2 linked regions of the Homo sapiens genome follow. The protein of the gene in region 1 purifies or fractionates together with the protein of each later gene. This does not show direct contact. Each region holds a gene or a part of one and is shown on either strand. Other genes may lie near its edges.

Region 1 (3,553 bases):
AGCTTTATAATTACTTACAGATTTGTTTTGGGGCTTAATTCTTATAACTGAAATTAGGTATGATTTTTAATAGTAACCATATAATTATATAGAATAGAAAAATGTGTTGTTTCCATGAGCAACACATTAGGACAACAGATTAGGACAGGCAGAATTAAAGTCTTGGAGATTAAATGTAGGAAATTAATTCCCAGGCTTATGATTATCACATTATTTTTAGTTAGTAGAAATGACAAGGGTATTGGTTTATGTAATTCCTTAAAGATAGCTTCTAAGTTTTGTGTCGTAGCTTGTCCAGGACCTTGTTGAAAGTACCTGGGCTTATGTCTGAGGCTCTGAATAGTCTTCTGCCACAGCTCTCTTTTTATACATTTGGATGTGATTGGATTGTATCCAGTTGATTTTTTTGACACATATTTAATATTTTTTGTTATTAATAAAATATTTACAAATCCTGTGGGTTCATTTCTTAAATTTTGTCGTGCATTAACTAGTTTATTCTTATTTTTATTATTTTTTTTTTAAGTGGGAACTGGGCAGTGAAGAGCCCCACTCCCAATTAGTTCATTCTTAATTATTTTGTTGAATGTTGGCAGTTTACCGCAGATAACACTAATAGAGAAATGTTTAGTTTTAGCATTTAGGATAACTTAGAAGACAATGTAATTAGTTTCAAAAATGTATACCCCTAATGTTGTGTTCATATCATCTGATAACCTCAAATATAGTTAACATTCAAGAAAAGGAGTGCATTATGTGACTGGCCGTGTATGTTTTTGATTAAAAAAGAAAAAAGTTCGTTGTTTCATGGTTGAAAGGGACAACATTTTTGGATGAGGTTTTTTTTTTGTTGTTGTTGTTGTTGTTTTTTAACACTTCTGCTTGAATTAAAACACTCTTAACCAAACCATGCTGAATTACCTAAGGAAGGGACCCCTGGAATGATAGCTTATGTAACAAGCAGCAGCAACAACCCTGACCAATATGATTTTTTTAAAGGAGTTAAGAAATTATAGGTGACTTGAAACTTAGAGCCAAGTAACATAAGTATTAAAAGTATAACCTTGATTTCTCATAAATATTTGGGACAGTGGCATTTAAATGTTACAAGGTAGAAGTCAGCTGACCTCTACATAATACACTAAATTACTCTAGTGCACAAAAAGAGGACAGTAATTCTTTAAAAGGGAGACGAGTACTCTAGTGAGAATATCGAGTTTGTTTTTATGTCTGGAATTAAAGTTCAGATCTTAATCATAAGTTCTATTTTGAGGGCTTTTGTTGAAGATTTTTCATAATCTTAACTTTGCATGCCCCAAAATGACTTTATCTTTTTGCTTTCAGTAAAGTACAGTTGACTTAGTTCGAATCTATCTAGAAATAAGATCCTAGAGGAGACAAAAAACAGCTTGAGAGGATGATTTTTTTTAAAGTCCTGATTGCTGTCAGTCTCAGAGCAATATGGATCAGAGCTGTACAGTGCAAACGGGAAGAAAGCAAAATATATGTTGGGTAAGGGAGGGTATCATCAACATTTGTCCTTTAGGTGCAATCAGTGCTACAGAATATTTACTTCAAGAGCAGAAATTTATGGGATAAAGAAGTATATTGCATCCAGAACACATACAGACACTGGATTTCCTTTTAAATGGTCAGTATTGCCGGTGCAGTGGCTCATGCCTGTTATCTCAGTACTTTGGGAGGTTGAAGCATGCAGATTGCTTGAGCCTGGGAGTTCAAGAACAGCCTAGGCAACATGGCAAAACCCCATCTCTACAAAAAATAGAAAAATTACCTGAGTTTGGTGGCATGCAATTGTGGTCCCAGTTATTGAGGGTGCTGAGGCAGGAGGATTGCTTGAGCCTGGGAGGGCAAGGCTGCAGTTAGCGGTTTGGTGCCACTGTACTCCAGCCTGGGCAACAGAGCATGACACTATCTCAAAAAAAAAAGAAAAAGAAAGGAAAAAAGTTATCAGTATTTTATTTATATACATCAGCCCTAAATCCTCAGTATTTTATATATATACATCAACCCTACCACCAGTTCTCCCGGCTAAGTAACAAAAAGGAATTCTGTCAGCATCATTTAATTCCGTAGGCATTTAACATTATGTGAGGGGAGCCATTCAGTTGCACAAATAGGTACAGCACAGTAAGCCGCAAGAGTAACTTAGTAAACAAAGCATTAGCATTATTATGATACTTTTAACTCACTGTGGCATCTTCCCAGACTTTCTAGAGAGTAAATTAACTGAGTCTGGGTTGCTGTTGGGACTAGTAAGAGAATCTTTCAAAAGGGAATTTAAAGATACGCTCCCTAGGTACCCGTACTCTGTGAGTAAAAGTATTAGCAAACTGTTTATAACATTTATTTTAACATGAATGCCACTTCCAGGCCTTTTTTTTGTGTGTGTGTGTGTGAGACTGAGTCTCATTCTGTCACCCAGGTGGGAGTGCAGTGGTGTGATCTCAGCTTAATGCAGCCTCTGCCCCCACCCCCACCCCCTGCTGGGGTTCAAGTGATTCTCCTGCCTCAGCCTCCCGAGTAGCTGGGATTACAGGCACCTGCCACCATGCCCGGCTAATTTTTGTATTTTTAGTAGAGATGGGGTTTCACCATCTTGGCCAGGCTGGTCTTGAACTCCTGACCTCGTGATCCACCCCCCTTGGCCTCCCAAAGTGCTGGGATTACAGGCGTGAGCCACCGTGCCCGGCCAACTTCCAAGCATTTTTAATACAGGAATATATTTTTCTAGTAAATTAGGATGATGGTAGCATTTTAAAAAGCACAGTGCTGTATATCTGAAGACCTGTTGCCAATATATTATTTCTCTTAATAGATGTTTAGAAAGAATAGCTTTCAACATAGCTGCTACACTGTTGTATGTTATATATAGGATTATATTTCAGTTAAGGACTAGCCAAATTTATTTTCAAACTTCAGATGTTTATCATGAAGTAACTTTGTTAAAAAGGAGATTCTTAAAAGCAAGCATTTGTTTCTTACAGGTCCGAACAAGGTCAGTTGGTGAATGTGTAGCATTCTATTACATGTGGAAAAAATCTGAACGTTATGATTTCTTTGCTCAGCAAACACGATTTGGAAAGAAGAAATATAATCTTCATCCTGGTGTAACGTGAGTTAATTTTTTCCTTAAGAGCTATATATACATTTTTGCTAAGCTTTTCTAGATTTTTCTTGAGTTAATTATTATTTTGATAATCTTGCTTTTATATACTTGATCTTAACCAGAAGGCCGAGAGTGATAAAATCTTGCTTTTATAATACACATTAAACTTTACCATCTATTATATCTTCATAAATAAGGCATTTAGACTTTTCAGTGTCTTATGAAATATTGTAAACTACAGTTCATATTATGTATGAGACAAGCATATCATTAAAGCAAGATTTAGAATGTATATTTTTAATACACTGTTGAGAAGAAATGGATCAGAACAGCTGTGAAAGCATGTTTTTCTTAAATTCAGTTCCATTCAGTATAAGCACATACAGTTTTAATCTTCTTTTTTTTTTTTTGAGATGTAGTCTC
Region 2 (3,650 bases), on another chromosome or scaffold:
TGGCCAACATGGTGAAATCCTGTCTCTATTAAAAATACAAAAAATTGGGCTGGGCGCGGTGGCTCATGCCTGTAATCCCATCACTTTGGAAGCCCGAGGCAGGTGGATCACAAGGTCAGGAGTTTTAAGACCAGCCTGGTCAAGATGGTGAAACCTCGTCTCCACTAAAAATACAAAAAAAAAATAACCGGACATGGTGGTGGGTGCCTGTAATCCCAGCTACTCAGAGGCTGAGGCAGAGAATTGCTTGAACCTGGGAGGCGGAGGCTGCAGTGAGCCGAGATCATGCCACTGTGCTCCAGGCTGGGCAATAGAGCAAGACTCCATTTCAAAAAAGAAATACAAAAAATGAGCCAGGCATGGTGGTGAGCGCCTGTAATCCCAGCTACTTGGGAGGCTAAGGCAGGAGAATCACTTGAACCTGGGAAGTGGAGGTTGCAGTGGGCCGAGATCCTGCCACTATACTCCAGCCTGCGCAACAGCGCAAGACTCCATCTCAAAAAAAAAAAAAAAGAAAGAAAAAGGGTACTGTGGAGCTGGGCCATGACGGCTCCACGAGAAAGCCCATGAGAAACAAATGTTCCCCAGTCAGGAGAGGGTGCTACACCCAGGACAGGTGCCACGGCCAGGGGAGCCTGGGCGAGGGGTACGTGAGACCTCTGTCTTATGCTGGCAACTTCCTGTTTGCAATTTCCCATTTGAAATCACAGAATTCTCTTAAAATGAAAAGCCAGAAAGAAAAGTAACAGGACATGTCAGATCATGAGCTGTGACCCCTAACCCCAGGCACCCCCCGGGGCCTCCCGGCAGGCTTTGGAGCCTTACTGGGCTGCTTCAGCCGCAGCTCCATGGCGGGGTCGCTGCCCTTCTCCCTGCGGCCCTCACACAGCAGCTTCTCCCGCTCCTTCTCGGTCCGATACTCCAGAAGCTGCTTCTGCGCCTGGCGGTAGATCTTCAGCAGCCTGGAGCACAGGGTCTGGTGCAGGCGCAGGAAGAAGTACCAGTTGTTGTTGGCAAAAAATAGGCTGTAGACATCGTCCAGGGGCTTGTGCGGGGCTGGGGGCGGCAGGGGTGGCTGCTCAGTGGCCGGGGCATCCCCGAAGGCCCCCTTCTCCTCTGGGGGGCTACTGTGGGGTCCTGGCGCCGGCTTCTTCCGCTCACTGGGGTCTGTGGTCTGCCCCTGGGGGCTGTCCCGGTCCTCATCAGCTGACTCCTCGGAGGCGCCCAGGTCCAGCTGCTGAGAGAAGAAGAGGCTGGGCACGAACTGGTGCAGCAGCTGGTGGATGGTGCCCTGGTCCTCCTTCTGGATGGCCGGCTGCCGCTTCACGTAGTAGCTGATGAGCGCTGCTGCGTCCTCCAGGATCTGCCGGTCCTCGTACACAAAGATGAGGTGCGGCTCGCTAGAGGGGGCACTGCGGCCCTCCGAGTGCTGCTCCTGGTGCTGTGGGGGGAAGGGCGGCCATTAGGTGGAAAGCCACCCAGCACCCAGAGGACCCCCAGTGCCCATTCACGACTCGCTGTTAACTGGGCCACCAAGGTGGATGAGCGCTGCCCAGAGCAGGATGGGTGGCGAACATCGGTGAGGCAGCAGGGCCTGGGGGGTAGGTCGCTTGCCTCAACCTCTTGTGCAGCCCCATGTGCTCCTGGTCCCCTCTCCGAAAGTGAGGCAGACCCAAGTCATCCCGGGACCCCAGACAAAGGAGCCAAGAGGATTCTGAGATGTGGGGCGGGGTTCACAGGGGGTCTGACAGCGTCAAGCCTGGGTCTGTCGCTCAGCCCAGCTCCAGGACAGAACGGGGCCCCGTGGCTCAGCATGGAGAAGCCTCTGAGGCTGACCTCCTCCTACTGAAAGCAACGGTGGCGCCTGATTCCAGCTCGACCGGGGCTGCCCACACCATGCTATCGATGAAGTCAAGGAGGCAAAGGGTGAGCCGTGACCTCTCTGCCTCTGCCCTCCATCTACTACCCGGAAGGCCTGCAACTGCTCACATCTGAAGACCTGCACGCCCATCGTCACCAAGCCCCCGCCTCCGCTGCTGTCCCCGCCAGCCCCTGCACGTGCTTGCTACCACCATCATGTCACCAGCCCTCCCACCAGCTCCCACCAGCCTGCTCCAACCACTCTCCTCACTGGGTCCAGGGTGACTTGGCCCACAGGAGCATGGTCACCCCAACTAATGCCCTTCAGGCTTTCCCAGGCTGCTCAGAAGACGCCGGCCCCTGATGTGCCCCTCCACAGCTCCTCCAGCCTCACCGCGCCAAGCTCCCTCCTGCGTGTGCAGGGCCTTTGCACATGCCCATCTGCTCTCACTCCCTGGAAAACCCTGTCCCAGGCTCACCCCTCCCCTTGGTCTTTATCTAGATCATGACTTTCATTCCCTCACACCATTAGACAATCACCCCTTCCTCCAGCCTCCCACACCACTGTCCTGGCACCCAGGGCCTCTGCTGGGCAGCCCCAACCCCCTCAGTCCAAGGCAGGGAGGCAGACGCAGCAGGGCTCTTGGGGAAAATGAGCGTGGATGCCATCTCTGCAGGCTCCCGAGGGAAGGACCGGGTCTCCTAGCAGCCTGAGGTTTCCCTTCCTCCTCCCCTGCAAGGCGGCTTAGAGGCTGGTAGGGCCAAGCACACTGACCTGGTTCCTAGGAGTCTGCACGCTCAGCCCTGCTCTGGGCTCTTCAGTGTGACCATCGCCCTCTGACTGCTTCCTAAGTCCCCCAGGTCTCATTTATGCCATAAACACTCTGAAAATTCCTTTACAGTCCCCTCTGAAGCAGGGTCCCCATGTCCATGATCTGTAACCATGCTTTGTAAATCACGTGATGGAATGGGGTTCTGACTTTGGAATTCATCAAGGACCTGCATGTGCAGAGATCTGCATATGAACCTTGGTGCCCCTCCCTTTGTCAGCCCCAGCCCCAGGGAGGGATCCAGGAACTCAGGGTCGCATTGGTGGATTTCCAGGGCTACTTCATCATCTGCACTTTGCAGACACCACAGACCCACAGAACCTATACGGGGTCTTGGGCTTGAGGATCGCCGAGGACTAGAGTGAGGAAGCCAGAGTGGTTGTGGGTGGGCCTGGGGCGAGGGTGGCCCACGGGAAGGGAGGTGGGAGGGAAGGGGGTCCCCACAGTCCCACAGGCTCTGGGAGAGGCCTTGGGCCAGCAGCCCGGCTCCTGTGGATTCCGTTTCTGTGTTGTAAAAGAAGGAGCGACCGCTCACTGTGCAGTGACAGGAGCAAGAAACCAAATCAGGTGAGGCAACACCCCCTGCCCAGGTGGGCACCAGGCTGATAACGCAGCCCGTGCCATGATCTGGGCACTGCCTGGGGAGTAGTGTGCCCTCCTAAGCCACCTCCTCAGAGTGTCCAAGGACCTTCCCGACAGCTGGCTATCACCACGCCCGGCACCCTGCCAAGCTTCCCACCTCAGGATCCTGCAAGCAGGCACTCCCTACACACAGCTACTAACAGGCCCAGCTCCTGGCAACCTGAGGGCCCCGCTGGCCTTGGTTCTATGACTCAGGCCTTGTGAGCCTGCAGTGAGGACATGCAGCCGAAAGCCTCGAACCCAATGACTCAGAGCCCTGGCCCCCTGCGACCAGCCCAGGCAAATGCAACCTCTTGTGCCTCAGTTTCCCCACTGGTA

Evidence for each region. The genes of interacting proteins can lie anywhere in the genome.
Region 2: the proteins of MIER1 (region 1) and SIN3B purify together in Homo sapiens (co-immunoprecipitation; one large-scale study listed by IntAct). This does not show direct contact.

What each region holds. Positions count from the first base shown.
Region 1 is NC_000001.11:66,973,587-66,977,139, forward strand, and holds part of MIER1 (mesoderm induction early response protein 1), read left to right. Parts: exon of another isoform or gene 1-1,932; intron 1,933-3,008; coding exon 3,009-3,136; intron 3,137-3,553. UniProt on the Homo sapiens protein: Transcriptional repressor regulating the expression of a number of genes including SP1 target genes. Probably functions through recruitment of HDAC1 a histone deacetylase involved in chromatin silencing.
Region 2 is NC_000019.10:16,867,251-16,870,900, reverse strand, and holds part of SIN3B (paired amphipathic helix protein Sin3b), read right to left. Parts: intron 1,442-3,650; coding exon 826-1,441; intron 1-825.